Linked DNA regions of Homo sapiens. The protein of the gene in region 1 interacts with the protein of each later gene in a pairwise test. Each region holds a gene or a part of one and is shown in the gene's direction. Other genes may lie near its edges.

Region 1 (2,932 bases):
ATGGGTGCTTCCCTTGGAGGGTGGGGTGGGAACTGCGAATCAAAGCTCCTGCTGATATGCCCCGTCTGCACTTTCACCCCAGCCCTGCAAGAAAAGGTGGCTGAAGTGGAAACTCGGCTGCGGGAGCAACTCTCAGACACAGAGAGGAGGCTGAACGAGGCTCGGAGGGAGCATGCCAAGGCCGGTGAGCCTTGCCAGGGTGGATAGGGCCTTCCAGGAAGAAGGAAGTGTTAAGACATAAGGTTATTATTTTCCCCTCAAAGTGTGTTCAAAGCTTCATTACAGGAAGTAATGAAGGTATCCAGGAGTAGCACAGATGAATTATCACATCGTGAACACACCCATGTAGCCAGCACCAGATTAAGAAACAGCATATGGCCGGTCGCGGTGGCTTATGCCTGTAATCCAAGCACTTTGGGAGGCCGAGGTGGGTGTATCACCTGAGGTCAGGAGTTTGAGGCCAGCCTGGACAACATGGCGAAACCCTGTCTCGACTAAAAATACAAAAATTAGCTAGGCCTGGTGGTGGGCACCTGTACCCCAAGCTTACTTGTGAGGCTGATGTGGGAAGACTACATGAACCCGGGAGGTCGAGGCTGCAGTGAGCCAAGATTGTGCCACTGCACTCAAGCCTGGGTGATAGAGAAAGACCATGTGTCAAAAAAAGAATTGTGTAATGAATGTATCTTCTCTAACTAAATATAGCAGTTAACATTTGCCACATTTGGTCTCTTATCTATATACACACATATTTGTACATCTTTTGAATCACTTTAAGTTGTAATCATTTAATGTTTTGTTGTTGTTGTTGTTTGAGACAGAGTCTTCCTCTGTCACCAGCTGGAGTGCAGTGGCATGATCTTGGCTCACTGTGACCTCTGCCTCCCGGGTTCAAGCCATTCTCCTGGCTCAGCCTCCCAAGTAGCTGGGATTACAGGCGCCCACCACCATGCCCAGCTAGTTTTTGTATTTGCAGTAGAGACGGGATTACACCATGTTGGCCAGGATGGTCTCGAGCTCCTAACCTCGTGATCCGCCCGCCTTGGCATCCCAAAGTGCTGGGATTATAGGCGTGAGCCACCACGCCTAAGTAAGTTGTAAACATAAGTTGTTCAGCCGCATCTCCCAAAGCCAGTAAATTCTCCTATATAGCTGCAATCATCACACTTTAAGACAGTGAACACTAATTGCACAAAATCTAACCCAGTTCATGTTCAGATTTCCCCTGAGGAACTCCAGGATGGTTCAGGGATGAGGAAGATACTTAGGTTCAGATTCCCAGGCTCCTAGAGCATCAGCCCACCCCTCCAACTGTACAGAAGAGACAGATCCACAGAGCAGAACAGCCTCCCCAAGCCACAGAGTTGGTGACCCAGCGTTTGTTCCTGTCTTCATGGTGCCTGGCTGCCTCTGGCCTGACTCACACCTGCCTCCTCTGTGCCTTGGCCTCTCTGTAGTGGTCTCCTTACGCCAGATTCAGCGCAGAGCCGCCCAGGAAAAGGAGCGGAGCCAGGAACTCAGGCGTCTGCAGGAGGAGGCCCGGAAGGAGGAGGGGCAGCGACTGGCCCGGCGCTTGCAGGAGCTAGAGAGGGATAAGAACCTCATGCTGGTAGGAGACAGGAGGGCAGACAGGCAGACACTAGGGCCCATCCTGGGCTGGTTCCTGGGCTAGAGGTGTGGAAAGAGGATGGTGAGGGAGGCTCTATCCGGGCTAGGTTTAACCCTCTCCTTCCCAGGCCACCTTGCAGCAGGAAGGTCTCCTCTCCCGTTACAAGCAGCAGCGACTGTTGACAGTTCTTCCTTCCCTACTGGATAAGAAGAAATCTGTGGTGTCCAGCCCCAGGCCTCCAGAGTGTTCAGCATCTGCACCTGTAGCAGCAGCAGTGCCCACCAGGGAGTCCATAAAAGGTCTTGGGCCAAGCACAAAGGGACAAGGGACAAATGCGCGCACTTCAGGAATCTCCTCTTCAGACTCTCGCATGATGAGTGTTGTTCTCTGCGGTCCTTCGAGGCCCTTAGCCTCTTTTAGCGATGCCCAGCTTGGACCAAAGAGCCTCCTCTCTCCCATTCCTCATTTCCTGTGCCAGCCCTGTTTCCTCTGTAACCACGAGCACCTTCCCTTGTCTGGTGCTCATCTGCTGTCTTCCTTCCCAGGGTCCCTCTCTGTCCTGCTCGATGACCTGCAGGACCTGAGTGAAGCCATTTCCAAAGAGGAAGCTGTTTGTCAAGGAGACAACCTTGACAGATGCTCCAGCTCCAATCCCCAGATGAGCAGCTAAGCAGCTGACAGTTGGAGGGAAAGCCAGCCTGGGGGCTGGGAGGATCCTGGAGAAGTGGGTGGGGACAGACCAGCCCTTCCCCATCCTGGGGTTGCCCTGGGGGATACCAGCTGAGTCTGAATTCTGCTCTAAATAAAGACGACTACAGAAGGAGCCATTGTTTGGAAATGTTATTTCTGGGAATCTGTGGGAATTCTCCCTGCAGCCATCTCTCTTGGAGATTGTGAGAAGTGGTCCCACCCATAGCTCTCTCTATGGGTGGCACCTTTTCAAATCCTTTTTCTAGGCAGCTTTGGAAATGTTTGGGAAGCTCCTGCTTTTCTTTATTCTCAACTTTTGTTTTAAAACTCTTTTCTTCTGGAAGATGATAAATGCTAGGAGTGGGGAAGATGAAACATTCACTCGTTCAACAGGAATGTCAGAGCTAGGCACTGTATTAGCCTGGGGGCCACTTGGACCCTGAGAGCCTACATCCTAGTGGGAGAGCGAGCGAGCAGATGGGACCTAAACAGATGAACGAGATCGTTTCAAATAAGTGCTTGAAGAGAAAGTACAGTACGATGATATGATAGAAACTGACTCTGGGGAGAGGCCTCTGAGCAGGGGACCTTGTGCAGAGGCCTGCCTGAAGTGGGCTCCTGTGGAGGCCAGGA
Region 2 (3,500 bases), on another chromosome or scaffold:
ATTTTAACTGTTTAATTTTACAAATACATGTACCCATCTGGGTTGCTGTGTTTTCCTGAGAGCCCAGAACATATTCTAGGTAAGATCAACAAGTACTAATGCTTTTTTTTTTCTTTCTCTCCTTCTCCCTGTCTCTCTTCATTCCATCCTACCTGTCTCTCTTTCCCACCTGTTATCATGGCAGCCTATGTTTCCGAAGAGTTAAAGGCTGCTGCCCTGGTGGACGAAGGTTTAGACCCAGAGGAGCATACGGCAGATGGAGAGCCCTCGGCCAAGTACATGTGCCCGGAGAAGGAGCTCGCCAGGGCCTGCCCCAGCTACCAGAACTCCCCGGCCGCCGAGTTTTCCTGCCATGAAATGGACAGCGAGTCACACATCAGTGAGACCAGTGACCGAATGGCTGACTTTGAAAGCGGCTCCATCAAGAACGAAGAGGAGACCAAGGAGGTCACGGTCCCACTGGAAGACACGACTGTGTCGGATAGCCTGGAGCAGATGAAGGCCGTGTACAACAACTTCCTCTCCAACTCCTACTGGTCCAACCTCAACCTCAACCTGCACCAGCCCTCCTCGGAGAAGAACAACGGCAGCAGCAGCAGCAGCAGTAGCAGCAGCAGCAGCTGTGGCAGCGGGAGCTTCGACTGGCACCAGAGCGCCATGGCTAAGACGCTGCAGCAGGTGTCACAGAGCCGCATGCTCCCGGAGCCCAGCCTCTTCAGCACCGTGCAGCTGTACCGGCAGAGCAGCAAGCTCTATGGCTCCATCTTCACGGGGGCCAGCAAGTTCCGCTGTAAGGACTGCAGCGCTGCCTACGACACCCTGGTGGAGTTGACGGTGCACATGAACGAGACGGGGCATTACCGCGACGACAACCATGAGACCGATAACAACAACCCCAAGCGCTGGTCCAAGCCTCGCAAACGCTCCTTGCTGGAAATGGAAGGGAAGGAAGACGCCCAGAAGGTGCTGAAGTGCATGTACTGTGGCCACTCCTTTGAGTCCCTGCAGGATTTGAGTGTCCATATGATCAAAACAAAACACTACCAAAAAGTGCCTCTGAAGGAACCCGTCACTCCTGTCGCCGCCAAAATCATCCCTGCCACTCGGAAGAAAGCTTCCCTGGAGCTGGAGCTCCCCAGCTCCCCAGATTCCACAGGTGGAACCCCCAAAGCCACCATCTCAGACACCAACGATGCACTTCAGAAGAACTCCAACCCTTACATCACGCCAAATAATCGGTACGGCCACCAGAATGGGGCCAGCTATGCATGGCACTTTGAGGCCCGGAAGTCGCAGATCCTGAAGTGCATGGAGTGTGGGAGCTCGCATGACACCCTGCAGGAGCTCACTGCCCACATGATGGTCACTGGCCACTTCATCAAGGTCACCAACTCTGCTATGAAAAAGGGGAAGCCCATTGTGGAGACGCCTGTCACACCTACCATCACAACCCTGCTGGATGAGAAGGTCCAGTCCGTGCCCCTGGCAGCCACCACCTTCACGTCCCCCTCCAATACACCTGCCAGCATCTCCCCAAAACTGAATGTGGAGGTCAAGAAGGAAGTCGACAAGGAGAAAGCGGTCACTGACGAGAAACCTAAGCAAAAAGACAAGCCTGGCGAAGAAGAGGAGAAGTGTGACATCTCTTCCAAATACCATTACTTGACTGAAAATGACTTAGAAGAGAGTCCCAAGGGGGGGCTTGATATCCTCAAATCCTTGGAAAACACAGTGACATCCGCAATCAACAAGGCCCAGAACGGCACTCCTAGCTGGGGGGGCTATCCCAGCATCCATGCCGCCTACCAACTTCCCAACATGATGAAGTTGTCCCTGGGCTCGTCGGGGAAGAGCACGCCCCTGAAACCCATGTTTGGCAACAGTGAGATTGTCTCCCCGACGAAAAACCAGACCCTGGTCTCTCCACCCAGCAGCCAGACGTCCCCCATGCCCAAGACAAACTTTCATGCCATGGAGGAGCTGGTGAAAAAGGTCACTGAGAAAGTTGCCAAAGTGGAGGAGAAGATGAAGGAGCCGGATGGGAAGCTTTCCCCGCCCAAGCGGGCCACTCCCTCCCCATGTAGCAGCGAAGTCGGGGAACCCATCAAGATGGAGGCATCCAGCGATGGGGGCTTCCGCAGCCAGGAGAACAGCCCCAGCCCCCCGCGGGATGGGTGCAAGGATGGGAGCCCCCTCGCTGAGCCGGTGGAGAATGGCAAGGAGCTGGTGAAGCCCCTAGCCAGCAGTTTGAGTGGCAGCACGGCCATCATCACCGACCACCCGCCTGAACAGCCTTTTGTTAACCCTTTGAGCGCCCTGCAGTCAGTCATGAACATTCACCTGGGCAAGGCCGCCAAGCCCTCCCTGCCTGCCCTGGACCCCATGAGCATGCTTTTCAAGATGAGCAACAGCCTGGCGGAGAAGGCTGCTGTGGCCACCCCGCCGCCCCTGCAGTCCAAGAAGGCAGACCACCTCGACCGCTATTTCTACCACGTCAACAACGACCAGCCCATAGACTTGACAAAAGGGAAGAGTGACAAAGGCTGCTCCTTGGGTTCAGTGCTTCTGTCACCCACGTCCACAGCCCCGGCAACCTCCTCATCCACGGTGACAACGGCAAAGACATCTGCCGTCGTATCATTCATGTCAAACTCGCCGCTACGCGAGAATGCCTTGTCAGATATATCCGATATGCTGAAGAACTTGACAGAGAGCCACACGTCAAAATCCTCCACTCCTTCCAGCATCTCCGAGAAGTCTGACATTGACGGGGCCACTCTGGAGGAGGCTGAGGAGTCGACGCCCGCCCAGAAGAGGAAGGGCCGCCAGTCAAACTGGAACCCCCAGCACCTCCTGATCCTCCAGGCCCAGTTTGCCGCCAGCCTCCGGCAGACCTCAGAAGGGAAGTACATCATGTCAGACCTGAGCCCCCAGGAGCGGATGCATATCTCCAGGTTCACCGGGCTGTCCATGACCACCATCAGCCACTGGCTGGCCAACGTGAAATACCAGCTTCGAAGGACAGGTGGAACAAAGTTCCTCAAAAACTTGGACACTGGCCACCCCGTCTTCTTTTGTAACGATTGTGCGTCCCAAATCAGGACTCCTTCCACGTACATCAGTCACCTAGAGTCACACTTAGGCTTCCGGCTACGGGACTTATCCAAACTGTCCACCGAACAGATTAACAGTCAGATAGCACAAACCAAGTCACCGTCAGAAAAAATGGTGACGTCCTCCCCCGAGGAAGACCTGGGGACTTCCTATCAGTGCAAACTTTGCAATCGGACCTTTGCCAGCAAGCACGCTGTTAAACTTCACCTTAGCAAAACACACGGGAAATCTCCGGAAGACCACCTTCTGTATGTCTCTGAGTTAGAGAAGCAGTAGCATTTGCTTTTGATAGAAAGGACTGCAGTTTGCTTTGAGGGAAACTGTGGAAGGCACCTTCAGGCCCCCTCTGACTTGTTGTTCTTGGCACATGTTCTTATTTTAACTGC
Region 3 (3,500 bases), on another chromosome or scaffold:
ATTACTGAGGCTCCTAAATGTTTGAATTATTGAATTCATGTAAGAATACCAGTTTATGGCTAGTAGATATTAAAAAGAAGATATAATTTGAGATATTTCCTTTTGATTCAGACGTAACACTGTGCTTTCAAGCTTAACATCCTATTATTTTCCTATATATAGCTAGTGTTTATGAAAGTTTCTCTACTCCTTATTTTTAAATCCATATAAATAAAGCATTTATTGGATTTATACTGAGGTTGAATTAAAGAAGTGTAAGTTTATTTTTAGCATCGTGAGAAGTGTCTCACTTAAGGTAGTTTTTAATCTGGTTGTGTTTGCAATGAAACAATATTAGACAGTTTTATAATTGATTTCTTTCTTTTTCCTACCATTTCATCAGCAAGTCCCTTCAGCTCTTTCAAAATAAACCCTGAATCTGATCATTGTGGTCTGAATCACTATTATATTTTGCCAGAACTGCTACAATAGCCTCCAAATTCTTTTTTCCTCTTTTCTTACACTCAATTAATGAAAATTTTACCTTACCCAAGTAAAATCAGCTATGCCCAGTGATCTTTTAAAGACAAATCAGATTAACATTCACCTGCTGAAAACCCTTCAGTGAATTTCTGTCTCTTCTAGAATAAAATCTAAAGTCTTTATTGTGGCCTCCAATGCTCTATCTAGTCTGGCCCATATCTATCTCTAACTGTATCTTTGATCAATCTCTATCTTAATCATTGTGTTCCAGGCACACTAACCATCTCGCTATTCCTTGAATAGCATATTTCTGTCTGGAATGGTCAACTAACAGCAAAGAGGACAGTGTGGTTGGATAGGAATGAGAGAGGGAGGAAGAGGGTGATGAGGTTACAGAGGTAATTAGGGGAAAGATTATATGGTCTTATAGGCCGTAGTAGTACTTTTAGATTTTTCTCTGAAAAAATAGAGAGCCATTTTAGGGTTTTGAACAAAGGACTGATATCTTCCACTTGCCATTTAAAAGGATCATTCTGGCTGTTGCATTAAGAATGACTATAGAGGCTGGGAGTGGTGGCTCACACCTGTAATCCCAGCACTTTGGGAGGCCAAGGCGGGCAGATCATTTGAGGCCAGGAGTTCGAGACCAGCCTGGCCAATATGGTAAAACCCTGTTTCTACTAAAAATACAAAAATTAGCTGGGTGTGGTGGCGCCCACCTGTAATCCCAGCTACTCCAGAGGCTAAGGTGGGAGAATTGCTTGAACCAGGGAGGTGGAGGTTGCAGTGAACTGAGATCATGCCACTGTGCTCTAGCCTGGGTGACAGAGTGAGACTCCATCTCGGGGGAAAAAAAAAAGAATGACTATAGAGGGCAAAAACAGCAACAGGGAGCCTAATCAGGAGTCTGTTGGAATAACCCAGTGAGATGATGGCTTGGACCTGGGTGGTAATAATGAAAGAAGTATACAAATATATTTTAAAATATATATTAACGGTTGAAGGTCAAATAAACAAGATTTTCTGCTAGATTGAATGTAGAGTATGAGAAAAAGATACCAAGTATTACTCCAAAGTTCTTAGCCTGATTATCAGAAGGATAGAATTTACGTAAACTGAAATGAGGAAAACTGTGGCTAGAGTCAGAATGAATGGACAATCAGGAGTTAACGTTTTGGACATTTATAAACTTAACCTGTTTGTTAGTTTTCCAATTAGACTGATGAAAAAAATTAGTGTGACAGCTTAGAGTTATCAGCACATAAATGGTATTTAAAGCCGGGAGACTGGTTGAGATTACCAAGGAGAAGGTATAGATAGAGAAGTAAAGAGGACCAAAGATGAAGCTACATCTTGATAAAAGGTAAGGAGAAGAAGGCAGCAAAGGAGGTTGAAGAGGAGCCACCAGAGAGGTAAGAGGAAAAACTGAGAGATAATTATGTCCTGGAGGCCAAGTGAATCAAATATTCTAAAATGAGAGAATGACCAGTGGTGTCAAATAAGGCAAGTAAGAAGAGGACTAAGAATGGATTGTTAAATTTTGCAATGTGGATATCATTGGTGAACTTTGTAAGGTGAATGTTGATGGGGAGGTGGAGGCAAAACCCTGTGTGGAGTAGACTTAAAAGAAAATTGTGGGACGGGAATTGTAGTTAGTGAATATAGACAACTTTTTTTTTGAGGAGTTTTTTTGAGGAGTTTTCCTGCAAAGAGATGAGGTGGTAGCTGTCAAGAAAAGTAGTATCAATTTTTTTTAAGAGGAGAGGTATTGGGTAAAAAATTGATGATGTAGGAAAAAGAGGAAGACTTGTTGGAGCAATTTCATTAATTAGGCAAAAGGAAATGGAAATTAGAACCCAGGTGGAGAGATTAGGCAGGTGTGCCTCTCAGGTACTCGTCTATAGCAACAGATGGGAAGGGAGAATATGTGAACACAGATGCTGATTCTTAAGTAGGAAGCAAGATCAAAACAGCTGAAAGTGAGGATGAGGTATAAGGTATTGGTTGGTCTGAAGGGAGAGAAGAATATGTGAAATGGTGATCTGGAAAAGGAATAGATCAGGGAAATGTGGTGTGTGATTGCTATACTGAATTAATGGCCCATGTAGTGTTCATGGCCATGAACTATGAGTGTGGTTCTCCAGCCTGTTCAACTGCATGGCTGAAGGTAAGGAGTAGGTGGAGAGCTGGCTTTTAACCATGGCTGTGGTTTTGTGAAACAAATGTGACGGAAGTGTTAAGGAAGTTAAAGATACATGCAAGAGAGCAATTATAGTCTTTGACCATATCTTAGTAGTAGACATTTATTGTAAATGTGGTATTGTTTTGTATAGTTAAATTTCCAATCATATTTTAAAGCATTATAAAAATAATAAACATATCTAATTAATGAAGGAAATAATTGAGGCTGAACTGAAAGTCACTACCATGTTTACTGATATTTCCTGCCTATTTCACCCTATTACCACCTTATGCCATCCATTTCTTTTTTATTTCTACTAGATTATTTAATAAATTTGAGCATAAATATACTTGTTAGATTTTAGCATATCTTGTAGTGGAGCAACTTTTGTTAAGTTAGCTACTGTCTCAGTCCATTTTGTGTTGCTGTGAAGGAATACCTGAGGCTGGGTCATTTATAAAGGAAAAAGGTTTATTTGGCTCATAGTCCTGATGGCTGGGACATCAAGATTGGGCATCTGCATCTCGTGAGGGTCTCAGGCAGCTTCCACTGCCTGAGGTGGAAGGTAAAAGGGAGCCTGCGTGTGCACAGATCACATGGTAAGAGAAGAAGCAAGCCACCGGGAGAGGTGTCAGGCTGTTTTTAACAACCAGCTTTCAGAGGAACTAATAGAGGGAAAATTCGCTCACCTTGGAGGGAGGGCATTAATCTATTCATGGGATTTACCCCTACTATCCAAACCTCCCATTAGGCCCTATCTCCAACATTGGGGATCAAATTTCAACGTGAGATTTGGAAGGAACAAACATCCAATCCAGAGCAGCTACCATTGCCATTTCACCTAAAGAAATGTCTT
Region 4 (3,500 bases), on another chromosome or scaffold:
TGTTAAATAATTCAAGTTATTTCTGTTTATATCTAAGATGGAATTTACTTTTTCAAAAAGTAGGCTAAGATGATTTAATTTAAATAAAGGTTGTAAACTCGTAATTAATGCTGTTTTCAACATCAAAATGTATTGACAATGTTACATAATAAAGCTACTAAAACTATATGACAAAGCATTATGAGTAAAAATATAACCTAAGATATAATTTTATACAAGACTTAAAAATTAGGTTCTTTTACTGACTGACATGATTGGGCTTAAATATAGGCAGTTACAAAATTATAATCTTGATTTCTTTATAGACCTGTATGTACATAACAGTCTTATTTTTTAAAAGCTAAAAATAAATAATAAAATTTACCTCTCCACTCTGAAATCTGTGTTTATATTTTGCCACATAAATAATTCCGGGTCAAGCTTGAAATAAGCACACATCAATTTCATTTTCAACTGGAATGAGAAGATTTCTGGCCTTTTCAATACTTGTTAAACAAGGAAAGCTTTGCTTACATGTATAAGAAGTTGAAAATTATAGCAAAATGGTCATTGCTCTCCTATGAATGGCAGGATGCTTACTTTTATGTAAATTTTGAACTGGCCATATGGTAGGTGTGTGTTTATCTTGATAAGAAATTACCATTTTGCATTCCCACCAGCAATGATTGAGAATTTCTGTTATTCCAAATCCTTGTAAGCAATTGGTATTGCCAGTGTTTTGGATTTTAGCCATTTTAATAGGTGTATAGTGGTATCTCCTCTTTTCTCTCTCTCTCTTTTTTTTTTTTGAGACTGAGTCTCACTCTGTCGCCCAGGGGAGTGTAGTGGCGCGATCTTGGCTCACTGCAACCCTCTGCCTCCCAGTTCAAGCTATTCTTCTGCCTCAGCCTCCCGAGTAGCTGAGATTACAGGTGTGTGCCACCACGCCCGGCTAATTTTTGTATTTTGGGTAGAGACGGGGTTTCACCATGTTGGCCAGGCTGGTCTTGAACTCCTGACCTCAGGTGATCCACCCACCTCGGCCTCCCAAAGTGCTGAGATTACAGGCCTGAGCCACCACACCCGGCCTGGTATCTCCTCTTGATTTTAATTTTTATTTCCCTAATGGCTATGATGTTGAACATCTTTTTATGTGCTTATTTGCCATCCGTATATCCCCTTTGGTGAAATGTCTGTTCGTGTCTTCTACTCATATTTAATTGGGGAGTTTCCTTACTTGAATTCCTGACCTCAGGCGATCCGCCTGATGAGTTTTGAAAGTCATTTTTAATATAGTCTGGATACAAGTTGGGTGCAAGTCTATTATTGAATGTATGGTCTGTAAATATTTTGTTCCAGTCTATGGCTTGAATTTTCATTCTCTTAAAGCAAGGCTAAAAAATATGTACATATATTTAAGGATAAAATATAACATGAGTTCAAAAACTATTGTTTTCAATGCAAATTAAGGATTATAGGGTTTTTACTTCTTTGATTTTATATATTTACATGTAATCTTGCTTCATAAGTACATTAGCTGAATTACTTATCCTAACATAAATAAAAATATACAACCATATAATAATTTTTAATTAATAATAACATTATTAACAATTTGAGTTTTGAAAATAGTTTAAGATTTCTTTATAGCTATTTCTGTTGTGAGAGTATATCCCACCAGGAATGTATAGTCAAATTACTGGGTTTTAGTTTCATTTAAATCATTGCTGTCGGTATGGTTAAGTCACCAACTCAGTATCTAGTTAGGTTCATTTGTTTCATTGTGCTTTTGTTTCTGAACTTAAAAAAAGGCATTTGTATGGTCTCAAAGTCAAATTTGCAAAGTAAGTTACTTTCAGAGAGCTCTAGCTTTTATCTCTGTCTCTTCAATCTTATTCTCTCCCTCTCTCCATAATAACTTAAAGAAAAAACTTTATTTAGTTTGAGGTTATCCTCTTTCTCTTCCTCCTTCTCTTCTTTCTTTTTTTTTTAATTTTTAAAACAGCAAATTGTTAAATTTATTCACATGTTCCCCTTTTATTCAATACTTGGTAGCATAATCTACACAGTCTTTTGAACCTTCCTTTTTTCATTTTAACAGTATATCTTGGAGATCACTTGGTAGTGGTATATAGGGCTCTTCCTCATTTCTTTTTATAGTTACATAGTACTCCATTTTGTAGACTTACAATAGTTTATTCAACCATCCCCTTTTGGTGTACAGTTACATTATTTCCAGTCTTTTGTTATCCAATAATGTTGCAATAAATAGCCAAACTGTGCTTCAAAAGACACTATCAGAAAAGTGAAAAAGCAGCTGACAGTGTGGGAGGAAATATTTATAAAGCATATTATCTGATAAGGGACTATATTCAGAATATGTAAATAACTCCCAAAACTCAATAATAAAAAGACAAATAGGCCAGGTGCGGTGGCTCATGCCTGTAATCCCAGCACTTTGGGAGGCTGAGGCAGGCGGATCACCTGAGGTCAGGAGTTTGAGACCAGCCTGACTAACATGGAGAAACCTGTCTCTACTAAAAATACAAAACTAGCCGGGCGTGGTGGCGCATGCCTGTAATCCCAGCTACTCGGGAGGCTGAGACAGGAGAATCACTTGAACCTGGGAGGCAGAGGTTGTGGTGAGCCGAGATCGCACCATTGCACTCCAGCCTGGGCAACAAGAGTGCAACTTCATTTCAAAAAGCCAACAAACAAACAAAAAGGCAAATAATCCAGTTTTGGTGGTATGGGATTGCTGGGCAGACAAAACAATTGCTGTCTACTATGCTAGATCACAGGATAGTTTTGATATAAAGAATTCTGTCACTTTGTTCCCAGTAACTATTAAAATATCCTTGAAATTACATTATTTCAGATTGGGCCGCTTATTGAAGCTGCCATCCATACTTTGGAAATAACATATTCCATTGCTATTCCTAAATGTTCATTTGAATTTCAGGAATTAGAGTCTCTTTGCCTATGTAGGATTCAAACACCTAATTTTGGTCACCATGCATTCTGTACTGAACTTCGTAGCTCTGTCACCTAGGGTACATTTGACTATAAGTCACAGAATACCTGACTAACAGTGGTTTAAGCCAAATTAATTTTCTCATAAGAACTTTAGAGGTGTAGCAGTTTCAGATTTAGGCAGTGACTGATGAATGTCATAAAGAACCCAGGCTCTTTTTATCTCTGCATTCTGCCATCTTCAGAATATTGGCTTTTCTTTCTTAGGCTTGTGACCTCATAGTTGCAAAATAGTTGCCTCAGTTCCAGTCATCACAACTACATGTAACCATGTTCAAGACAAGCAGGAAGGAGAGGGAGGGGAAACAGCTCTTCTTATATGAGAAAACAAAATGTTTTCCAGGAGCCCCCCAGTAGATTCCCTCCTTCCATCTTATTTGCTAAAATTGATGCACATGGCCATCCTTTACTACAAGGAATGCTGGGAAATTATCTTGTTTTTTTTTTCACCATCTACTTTTGGAGGTGGGAAAGGGAAAAGAGGGTTC
Region 5 (3,125 bases), on another chromosome or scaffold:
GGAGGAGATCATCATGGGAGACCCGGCTCAGAGTCCAGAATCCAAGGACTCAACAGAGATGTCCCTGGAGAGATCCTCCCAGGACCCCTCTGTCCCCCAGAACCCCCCAACCCCACTGGGTCACTCCAATCCCTTGGACCACCAGATCCCCCTGGACCCCCCAGCCCCGGAGGTAGTCCCTACCCCATCTGACTGGACCAAGGCCTGCGAGGCCAGCTGGCAGTGGGGCGCTCTCACCACATGGAACAGCCCCCCAGTCGTCCCCGCCAACGAGCCCAGCCTGCGGGAGCTGGTGCAGGGCCGCCCGGCGGGGGCGGAGAAGCCCTACATCTGCAACGAGTGCGGCAAGAGCTTCAGCCAGTGGTCCAAGCTGCTGCGGCACCAGCGCATCCACACGGGAGAGCGGCCCAACACCTGCTCCGAGTGCGGCAAGAGCTTCACGCAGAGCTCGCACCTGGTGCAGCACCAGCGCACGCACACCGGCGAGAAGCCCTACAAGTGCCCCGACTGCGGCAAGTGCTTCAGCTGGAGCTCCAACCTGGTGCAGCACCAGCGCACGCACACGGGAGAGAAGCCCTACAAGTGCACGGAGTGCGAGAAAGCCTTCACCCAGAGCACCAACCTCATCAAGCACCAGCGATCCCACACCGGCGAGAAGCCCTACAAGTGCGGCGAGTGCCGCCGGGCTTTCTACCGCAGCTCGGACCTCATCCAGCACCAGGCCACCCACACAGGCGAGAAACCCTACAAGTGCCCCGAGTGCGGGAAGCGCTTCGGCCAGAACCACAACCTCCTCAAGCACCAGAAGATCCACGCGGGCGAGAAGCCATACCGCTGCACCGAGTGCGGGAAGAGCTTCATCCAGAGCTCGGAGCTGACCCAGCACCAGCGCACGCACACAGGCGAGAAGCCCTACGAGTGCCTAGAGTGCGGCAAGAGCTTCGGCCACAGCTCCACCCTCATCAAGCACCAGCGGACTCACCTGCGCGAGGACCCGTTCAAGTGCCCAGTGTGCGGCAAGACCTTCACCCTGAGCGCCACGTTGCTGCGGCACCAGCGCACGCACACGGGCGAGCGGCCCTACAAGTGCCCAGAGTGCGGCAAGAGCTTCAGCGTCAGCTCCAACCTCATCAACCACCAGCGCATCCACCGCGGCGAGCGGCCCTACATCTGCGCCGACTGCGGCAAGAGCTTCATCATGAGCTCCACCCTTATCCGCCACCAGCGCATCCACACCGGTGAGAAGCCCTACAAGTGTTCCGACTGCGGCAAGAGCTTCATCCGCAGCTCCCACCTTATCCAGCACCGCCGCACGCACACCGGCGAGAAGCCCTACAAGTGCCCCGAGTGCGGCAAGAGCTTCAGCCAGAGCTCCAACCTTATTACCCACGTCCGCACGCACATGGACGAGAACCTGTTCGTGTGCTCCGACTGCGGGAAGGCCTTCCTGGAAGCCCACGAGCTGGAGCAGCACCGGGTGATCCATGAGAGGGGGAAGACCCCAGCGCGTAGGGCCCAGGGCGACAGCCTGCTGGGGCTCGGGGACCCCTCCCTGCTGACCCCGCCGCCGGGAGCCAAGCCGCACAAGTGTCTCGTGTGCGGAAAGGGCTTCAACGACGAGGGCATCTTCATGCAACATCAGAGGATCCACATCGGAGAAAACCCCTACAAAAATGCAGACGGCCTCATCGCACACGCAGCCCCCAAACCTCCTCAGTTACGATCCCCAAGGCTCCCTTTCAGAGGGAATTCCTACCCCGGGGCTGCGGAGGGCAGAGCGGAGGCCCCCGGACAGCCCCTTAAGCCGCCGGAGGGTCAGGAGGGCTTCAGCCAGAGGCGGGGGCTGCTGTCCTCCAAGACCTACATCTGCTCCCACTGCGGAGAGAGCTTCCTGGATCGCTCTGTGCTCCTCCAGCATCAGCTCACCCACGGCAACGAAAAGCCCTTTCTCTTTCCTGATTATAGAATTGGCCTAGGGGAAGGCGCAGGGCCCAGCCCCTTCTTAAGTGGGAAGCCCTTTAAATGCCCTGAATGCAAACAAAGCTTTGGCCTCAGCTCTGAGCTGCTGCTGCACCAGAAAGTCCATGCAGGCGGGAAGAGCTCCCAGAAGAGTCCAGAGCTGGGGAAGAGCTCTTCCGTCCTCCTGGAGCATCTCAGGAGCCCCCTGGGGGCCAGACCCTACCGCTGCTCAGATTGCAGGGCCTCCTTCCTCGACCGCGTGGCCCTCACCCGGCACCAAGAAACCCACACCCAGGAAAAACCCCCCAATCCCGAGGACCCCCCTCCAGAGGCAGTCACCCTGTCCACAGATCAGGAAGGTGAGGGCGAGACCCCTACCCCCACAGAGAGCAGCAGCCATGGGGAAGGGCAAAACCCCAAAACCCTAGTGGAAGAAAAGCCCTATCTGTGCCCCGAGTGTGGAGCCGGCTTCACAGAAGTCGCAGCCCTCCTGCTCCATAGGAGCTGCCACCCAGGTGTCTCCCTGTGAAATGGGTCTGGAGACCAGGGGCCTCGCTCTCTCCAGAGAGGAACACTGGATTTTTTCCCCCAAAAAAATTACATGGGGAAGGGAGGATAACCCTATCAGATGGTAGTGGAGTGGAGGAGAAAGAACCCTGGGAAAAAATAGTGCTTTTACATCAGTGATGAGAAACCCTATAAAATTGTTGGTGGGAAGCACTTATAAGGCAGTAGAGAAAAACTGTTGGGTTAGAAACCCTATAAATATGTAGGAAAAAAAAAAGCCCTTTAAGTCTGTAGCAGAAAAACCCTATAAACCATAGTGGATAAAAGCCCTATTAATTGTAGGAAGAGGTCCCAATATGTCTCTGAACAACCCTATAAAATTGTATCAAAATCCTTAGGAAAATCCTATAGGGTCGGGGAAGTACCGCAATGGCACTGACCCGGGAGTAACGACCCTCAGATGATGCAGAAAACACCTCTCCCTCACTGTTCCACAATGTTCTCTCCCAGCAGCCCTGGACAGTTCTCATGGAGGAAGATGCTCAGCTGGGGGAGTGGTGTGGGAACTGGGTGGAACTGAAAAGGAAGAAAATAGGAGAAAAATAAGTGACCAGGAGCTCTGGAGCCCCCAGAGGAGATAAGACAGAGACTAGGAAGAA
Region 6 (3,500 bases), on another chromosome or scaffold:
AGGACAGAGTCCCAGCACAAAGCGGAGACTCCGCACGGAGCCGAGGAAGAATGCAAAGCGGAGACTCCGCACGGAGCCGAGGAGGAATGCCGGCACGGTGGGGTCTGTGCTCCCGCAGCAGTGGCCACTTCGCCTCCTGGTGCAATCCCTAAGGAAGCCTGCGGAGGAGCACCCCTGCAGGGTCTGCCTGGCGAAGCCCTGGGCTGCCCTGCGGGTGTGGGCACCCCCGTGCCAGCAGATGGCACTCAGACCCTTACCTGTGCACACACCTCTGCTCCTGAGAGCACAGCCCCAACCAACCACCTGGTGGCTGGCAGGGCCATGACCCTGAGTCCTCAGGAAGAAGTGGCTGCAGGCCAAATGGCCAGCTCCTCGAGGAGCGGACCTGTAAAACTAGAATTTGATGTATCTGATGGCGCCACCAGCAAAAGGGCACCCCCACCAAGGAGACTGGGAGAGAGGTCCGGCCTCAAGCCTCCCTTGAGGAAAGCAGCAGTGAGGCAGCAAAAGGCCCCGCAGGAGGTGGAGGAGGACGACGGTAGGAGCGGAGCAGGAGAGGACCCCCCCATGCCAGCTTCTCGGGGCTCTTACCACCTCGACTGGGACAAAATGGATGACCCAAACTTCATCCCGTTCGGAGGTGACACCAAGTCTGGTTGCAGTGAGGCCCAGCCCCCAGAAAGCCCTGAGACCAGGCTGGGCCAGCCAGCGGCTGAACAGTTGCATGCTGGGCCTGCCACGGAGGAGCCAGGTCCCTGTCTGAGCCAGTAAGTGTGAGGATGGGATGGGGAGCGTGGCGTGGGGCAGCTGCCCTGCAGTGTATGTGGTCCAGGACCCGAGGCCAGAAGTGTCATCAGATACTCCTTTGAGGCCGGGTAGGTTCTGCCTGAGGAGGGGCCTCTGGATAAAAACAGGGCTCAGGTGGCTCCCAGCTGAGGGTGCTTGGCCTTGCCTTGGCTGCCATGCATCTCTTTAGTGCTCCTGGCCTAAGGAGGGATCCAATAAGGGCGGGCTCAGGCCAGAAGCCAAATGCAACCAACCCTGGGCAGGACCCTGTCCCCCAGTCATGTTCCTCCTCAGGTGAACTTGACTTGGGTGTGTAACTCCAAAAGCCAGGCAAAGCCTGTTACTGCCTGGGTGGCGTCCGCTGCTTGCTGGGGTCTTGGCCGTGGGTCTGCTGCCTCCTGGCTGAATGGTCTTAGGCTACATCTCCTAGAGTTGCTCAGTGGGAGATTGTCCTGCCTGTAGGGTCCAGCCCTACTGGGTCTGTGGGTTTTTTCTCCTCGTGTGCATAGACAAGAGATTGTACAAATAAAGACACAAGAAAAAGACAGAAGAAAAGACAGCTGGGCCCGGGGGACCACTACCACCAAGGCACGGAGATCGGTAATGGCCCCGAATGTCTGGCTGCGCTGTTACTTATTGGATACAAGGCAAGGGGACAGGTTAAGGAGTGTGAGCCATCTCCAATGATAGGTCAGGTCACGCAAGTCACGTGTCCACTGGGCCCTTCCCTGTTTGGCAGCCAAGGCGGAGAGAGAGGACAGCTGACGCCATTATTTTTTCTATGTATTTCAAAGACTTTAGCACTTTGACTAATTCTGCTACTGCTATCTAGAAGACAGAGCCAGGTGTACAGAGCGGATCATGAAAGTGGACCAGGAGCGTGACTGCTGAAGCACAGCATCACAGGGACACAGGCCTCTGGATGGCTGCGGGCGGGCCTGACTGATTCCACAAGAGATGGTGGAGCAGAGTCTTCTCTAACTCCCCCAGGGAAAGGGAGACTCCCTTTCCCAGTCTAATTAACGGGTGCCTTCCCAGGCACTGGTGCTACCGCTAGACCAAGCTAGGTAACGGGTGCCTTCCCAAGTGCTGGTGTTACCGCTAGACCAGGGAGCCCTCCAGTGGCCCTGTCCGGGCGTGACAGAGGGCTCACACACCTCTTCCGGTCACTTTCTCACCGTGTGCCTTCACCTCCTATCTCTATATGGCCTGGTTTTTCCTAGGGTTATTTGTTTGTTTGTTTGTTTTTTGAGACAGAGTCTCGCTCTGTCACCCAGGCTGGAGCGCAGTGGCGTGATCTCGCCTCACTGCGAGTTCTGCCTCCCGGGTTCACACCATTCTCCTGCCTCAGCCTCCCGAGTAGCTGGGACTGCAGGCACCCGCCACCATGCCCGGCTAATTTTTTTGTATTTTTTAGTAGAGACGGGGTTTCACCGTGTTAGCCAGGATGGTCTAGATATGACCTCGTGATCCGACCGCCTCGGCCTCCCAAAGTGCTGGGATTACATGCGTGAGCCACCGCACCCGGCGTTTCCTAGGTTATTATTGTAGAACAAAGATTATTATAATATTAGAATAAAGAGTAAAGCTACAAACTAATGATTAACGATATTCATATATAATCATATCTATAATCTATTTCTAGTATAACTATTCTTATTCTGTATATTTATGATACTGGAACAGCTTGTGCCCTTGGTGTCTTGCCTTGGCCCCTGGGTGGCTTGCTGCCCACACCTGCCCCAGCCTCCACATTTGAAGCCTTTTGTCAGTTTCACAGTAAAAGGGATGTACTCATCCTTGTGATTCCCTTTGGCTGCATCGTGCTGACTTTAGAGCTCCCAGCCTGCTTCTCCCAGAGCTGGCAGGCAAGGCGCGTGTTTTCCTGCTGGGTGAGGTTGGTGAGGCAGTTTTGTGGCCAGGTCGCTTGGGACAGCCCCATGCCTGGCACGCTCTAGCTGAATGTTCACGTGGCCGGCACAGCAGTGCAGGGAAAGGCGATGGCAGCTCAGTGCTGGAGCAGGGGACGCCGGGGTTATGGGGTGGGGGGCATGGGCCTCTGCTGACTCTGTCTCCCCAGGCAGCTGCATTCAGCCTCAGCGGAGGACACGCCTGTGGTGCAGTTGGCAGCCGAGACCCCAACAGCAGAGAGCAAGGTAAGGGGTGCTTGTGTGGGTACCTGTGCTCCTGGCCTGGTCGTGTAGAAGAGTAGCAGGCAGTGGAAGCCCCCAGCAGCCTTGGGTGACGGGGTGGGATGTCCCGCTCCCTCTCCCCCAAGTCTACTTCAACAAGGTTGTGGGGAGGCAAAGCCACACCCCAAGTACCTTGACTGCACTGCACAGGGTGACTCTGCCCTTTCCTCCAGGAGAGAGCCTTGAACTCTGCCAGCACCTCGCTTCCCACAAGCTGTCCAGGCAGTGAGCCAGTGCCCACCCATCAGCAGGGGCAGCCTGCCTTGGAGCTGAAAGAGGAGAGCTTCAGAGACCCCGCTGAGGGTACGTTGCCTGGCACAGACGTCACACACAGTCTGCCCGGAGGGGATCCCGTGAGCACTTGGGCAGCTCGAGACACCTGCATCATCGGCAGGTGGTCATTTCGCAGGCAGTTGGGTCCCTTGACTTTGAATGACTCATGCACAAACTTGTGGTTTGTCAAAACTTAGTCAGTGTTAGGAGAGCAGGGCTCATACCTTTAACATAAAAGACTTCTAGAAA
Region 7 (3,500 bases), on another chromosome or scaffold:
TTGGTGGATTGGTCAAGAGATAAGGTTCTGGGTCTTTTTGCAAGGATGACCTAGGATGGTGGCTCTCAACCCTGGTGACACTTGAAATTGCCTAGATGTGTGCTCAGGCCATGCTCCGAGTCAATGAATGGGCTTCCCAGGAGGTGGGGCCTGCCCAGGACCAGCATGCAGACAAACTGCTGCAGAACCCATGGGCTGGGGTCACCGGCTGCCTGAACTTTTTCGTCTTAATTATTTTATACAAAGCTAAAGAAATCCCCAAATTTGCTTTAGAAGACACTTTTGAACCCTGCAAAGTATCATCTAAGCGACAGGAAAGTTACTTTTTTTGGCATTCATGAGGATAGTCTTGTCTGAATTGCCCACCAGTTACCATTTCAGGATCCTGTTCTCCTTAGTGGATGTAACTGATGTTGCTACAAAGGCCTAAAAAAACTTTTCCTGAAGCCTTAATTTTCTTTCCCAGAGATTCCTTTCCAGAGATGTTACTTTTATTTTTCAAACCCAACTCTAACTCAAAGGTGTTTTACATCCGAGCATACCTTTTGAATTGTATCATCTATTCCCATGTAATAAGACCCTTCTAAGTCATAAGTATACAGACACTAAACTGACTTTGATGTCATCGATCAGCATCGTCTGGGCTTGTGAGACGTGCAGAGTGTCCAGTCCAGCCTCAGACCCACTGAGGCAGAATCTGCATCTTAGCCAGATCCGCAGGGACTCGTGTGCATGCTCAGGATAGAGAAGCACCGATTGAGAAAGTGTCACATCTTTATGAGTCTTAGCTTAGCAATTCTACAATCAAGTTAGACGGTCACTTTCCTGTATGTCTATGTCATTGCTGCAGCCACTTTGTAAGGTGTTTGAAGCAGAGGCTGTCTTCCATGCAGCCTCTGGACACAGAAACCCTCATTGTAGACTTGGTGTTTGATTTTGCATGGCTTCGAGTCAATGTGCTCTGTGTCAGAATGCATGGCTCTTGAGCAGTCAGGCCTTTGTGAAACAATTTGAATATTTTTGAATAGACGTGGAAAGGCAGGTCAGGAGAGAGGGACCTGCTTGGCAGAGTGTGGAGAGGTCAGAGGATTTCCTTCTAGCCATTCCCTGGAGCGTCACTTCCCTTTCACCCACTGGGGCTGATGGCTCCTGCTTTGTGCTGCGCTGACATCCGAGCACAGCGTATGGCTCGCGGCTCCAACCAGCCTTCATTTTCTTCGAGAGTGTGCATTCCAGGTTTTCCCTTTCACAGAAGGGAAAACAGAGGCTTTGAGAGTCAAATCCTTTTCTAGAGTCTCTTAGTAGGTTCATGGCACAGCCAGGTCTAAGCTCTGGTCTCCTGGTACTTGGTCCCGGCATGTCACACTCCCAAGGAGGTTCAGACTTTGAAGACAAAGCAAAAGGCATTGATGGCTGTGCTGTGGGCCTGGCTTAGTCTTCTCAGGCTACTATAACAGGACACTACAGATGGGAGGGCCGACAGGCAGACATTTACTTCTCACTGTCCTGGGTGCTGGAAGTCCAAGATCAAGATGCCAGCAGAATTGGTGTCTGGTGAGGGCTCTCTTTCTGGCTTGAAGACGGCTGCCTTCTTGCTGTGTCTCACGTGACAGACAGACAGGGGGTGGGGGTGGGGGCTCTGGTGTCTCTTCTTGTTCTTACAAAGACCCTAATCACATGATGGGGCCCCCCATCCTCATGACCTCATCTAACCCTAACACCTTCCAAAGGTCTCCTAAAACCTTCATCTTGGGAGTTAGTTAGGGCTTCAACACAGAATTCAGGGGGACACGGATATTCCGTCCATACCAGGGCCCCGCACCTTCTCTGCCCTTTTCCTCTCTGCATGTCCCATGAGTCTGACTCTGGCCTTCTCTGTGCAGGAGAAGCTCCTGACGGAGCGGGAGGTGGCCGCCCTGCGGAGTCAGCTGGAGGAGGGCCGGGAGGTGCTCTCCCACCTGCAGGCGCAGAGAGTGGAGCTGCAGGCACAGGTACGCTCGAGTCTGCCGCGTGTGCATTGGGGCTTCCCACATGTTTCATGGAGGTGTTACGCGCAGGCACACGCATGCAGCTTGAGGAGCTGTCACACGCTGAACATATCCTATGTTCCTGGCAGAAACGGGGTTTTCTGAGTGGGTGGCCAAGCGCTCTGCTCTGGCCTGGACTGAGGAGTTTTCCAGGACACAGGGAGAGTCCTGAGCTGGGGGACACAGGTGCCACGCTCATTCCTGGCCCCTCAGAGGTGCCCCTTGGGACTCCTTCGAGTCATGCCCTCCCCACCGAGTCTTAGGCTTAGGCTGCCCCAGTGTCTACATCATGCATTCATTTTGCCCAGGTCAAGCTTCGTAAGAATAAGAAGAAACGGACACCATAGGGATTTTTATCCTCCACTTGTTCAAATCTGTGCTTCTGTTTTCCTTCTCATGGTAACAGTTCTCCTTCGGAATTTGATTACAACCCGGCAAGAGTGGTTGTATCAGTGTTTGCTTCTAGTTAGAAACGTGTTGGTGGAAAGCTCACATTTCTACCCCCACCCCTTTTGGGTGAAGCTTAATTTGAAAACAAAACAGAAAAGCCCCAAACTGTCCTGTGGCCTGTGCCTTCTTGGCTACTTGCCGGCTCATCTTCTTTGTTCCTTCCGGTTCTCTCTCTTTCTCATTACCCTACAGCAGGTCATTCCACAGGGACGCTTGGGTTAAAATACTGCACCTTTGTATGGCTCTCTAACCACATTTCCCAAACCAAAAAGTAAGTTGACATTTGGTTTGACAAGTACACATGGGGACAAGAGAGCAAAACGTGTAAAAATCGGACACTTCAGAAAGCCTGGACCATTTGGATGTTATGTGTTACTCTGTCTAAAAATGTGAAGCCACAACTAGATGTAGCGCTTTTTATTGATTTCCAGTGCCCCCATGTCTGCTCAGGATTTCATTTTGGGACCTTGGAGTTCACATCCTAATTCCCATCCCAGCACGCACCACACAAAACTCACAGTGCAGCAGCTCTCAGGGGCTGCTGGAAAGCAAACCCGGGTCTGTGGTGGTCCCCTGAACTGACGATCGCAGCAGGAGGAACCAAGTAAGGCACTTAAAACTCCTCCTTCTTGTGAGACAAACCCTGGCTCAGGGACCATGTGCCTCATCCTGGTGACTGGGGCCTGTGTGGTTTCTTCTGAGGCTCTGACAGGATAGAATAAGGGTTGTATGTGTTTGTGTACATGGGGTGTGTGTGTGTGATATACATGGTATGTGTGATATATGTGGGATGTGTATGTGAAGTGTGTGTGGTGTGTGTGTGTCATGTGTATGTGTGTGTGCTGTGTATGTGAATAGGGACGTGGATACAAGCCCAGTCGTGGTCCTAGAGACCAGTGTTTTCCAAATGGCTAGTGACAACTCATTTTTGGATGTAAAATGAACTCAGTAGAATTGACTGGCATGTAAAAGGAAGTCAACAAAATGCTAGACTAAAATATAATAAGAAAAACAGAGTGTACA

Evidence for each region.
Region 2: the proteins of CCHCR1 (region 1) and TSHZ3 interact in binary tests that used the Homo sapiens proteins (3 or more experiments, as listed by UniProt).
Region 3: the proteins of CCHCR1 (region 1) and NME7 interact in binary tests that used the Homo sapiens proteins (3 or more experiments, as listed by UniProt).
Region 4: the proteins of CCHCR1 (region 1) and EFHC2 interact in binary tests that used the Homo sapiens proteins (3 or more experiments, as listed by UniProt).
Region 5: the proteins of CCHCR1 (region 1) and ZNF629 interact in binary tests that used the Homo sapiens proteins (3 or more experiments, as listed by UniProt).
Region 6: the proteins of CCHCR1 (region 1) and TACC3 interact in binary tests that used the Homo sapiens proteins (3 or more experiments, as listed by UniProt).
Region 7: the proteins of CCHCR1 (region 1) and BFSP1 interact in binary tests that used the Homo sapiens proteins (3 or more experiments, as listed by UniProt).

What each region holds. Positions count from the first base shown.
Region 1 is NC_000006.12:31,141,939-31,144,870, reverse strand, and holds the end of CCHCR1 (coiled-coil alpha-helical rod protein 1), read left to right. Parts: intron 1-82; coding exon 83-184; intron 185-1,457; coding exon 1,458-1,609; intron 1,610-1,736; coding exon 1,737-1,908; intron 1,909-2,154; coding exon 2,155-2,279; 3' UTR 2,280-2,432; downstream 2,433-2,932. UniProt on the Homo sapiens protein: May be a regulator of keratinocyte proliferation or differentiation.
Region 2 is NC_000019.10:31,276,437-31,279,936, reverse strand, and holds part of TSHZ3 (teashirt homolog 3), read left to right. Parts: intron 1-184; coding exon 185-3,390; 3' UTR 3,391-3,500. UniProt on the Homo sapiens protein: Transcriptional regulator involved in developmental processes. Functions in association with APBB1, SET and HDAC factors as a transcriptional repressor, that inhibits the expression of CASP4.
Region 3 is NC_000001.11:169,294,798-169,298,297, reverse strand, and holds part of NME7 (nucleoside diphosphate kinase homolog 7), read left to right. Parts: intron 1-3,500. UniProt on the Homo sapiens protein: Possesses an intrinsic kinase activity. Displays 3'-5' exonuclease activity with a preference for single-stranded DNA. Does not seem to have nucleoside diphosphate kinase activity.
Region 4 is NC_000023.11:44,333,673-44,337,172, reverse strand, and holds part of EFHC2 (EF-hand domain-containing family member C2), read left to right. Parts: intron 1-3,500. UniProt on the Homo sapiens protein: Microtubule inner protein (MIP) part of the dynein-decorated doublet microtubules (DMTs) in cilia axoneme, which is required for motile cilia beating.
Region 5 is NC_000016.10:30,781,081-30,784,205, reverse strand, and holds part of ZNF629 (zinc finger protein 629), read left to right. Parts: coding exon 1-2,488; 3' UTR 2,489-3,125. UniProt on the Homo sapiens protein: May be involved in transcriptional regulation.
Region 6 is NC_000004.12:1,728,021-1,731,520, forward strand, and holds part of TACC3 (transforming acidic coiled-coil-containing protein 3), read left to right. Parts: coding exon 1-767; intron 768-2,866; coding exon 2,867-2,942; intron 2,943-3,151; coding exon 3,152-3,281; intron 3,282-3,500. UniProt on the Homo sapiens protein: Plays a role in the microtubule-dependent coupling of the nucleus and the centrosome. Involved in the processes that regulate centrosome-mediated interkinetic nuclear migration (INM) of neural progenitors.
Region 7 is NC_000020.11:17,507,380-17,510,879, reverse strand, and holds part of BFSP1 (filensin), read left to right. Parts: intron 1-1,883; coding exon 1,884-1,991; intron 1,992-3,500. UniProt on the Homo sapiens protein: Required for the correct formation of lens intermediate filaments as part of a complex composed of BFSP1, BFSP2 and CRYAA. Involved in altering the calcium regulation of MIP water permeability.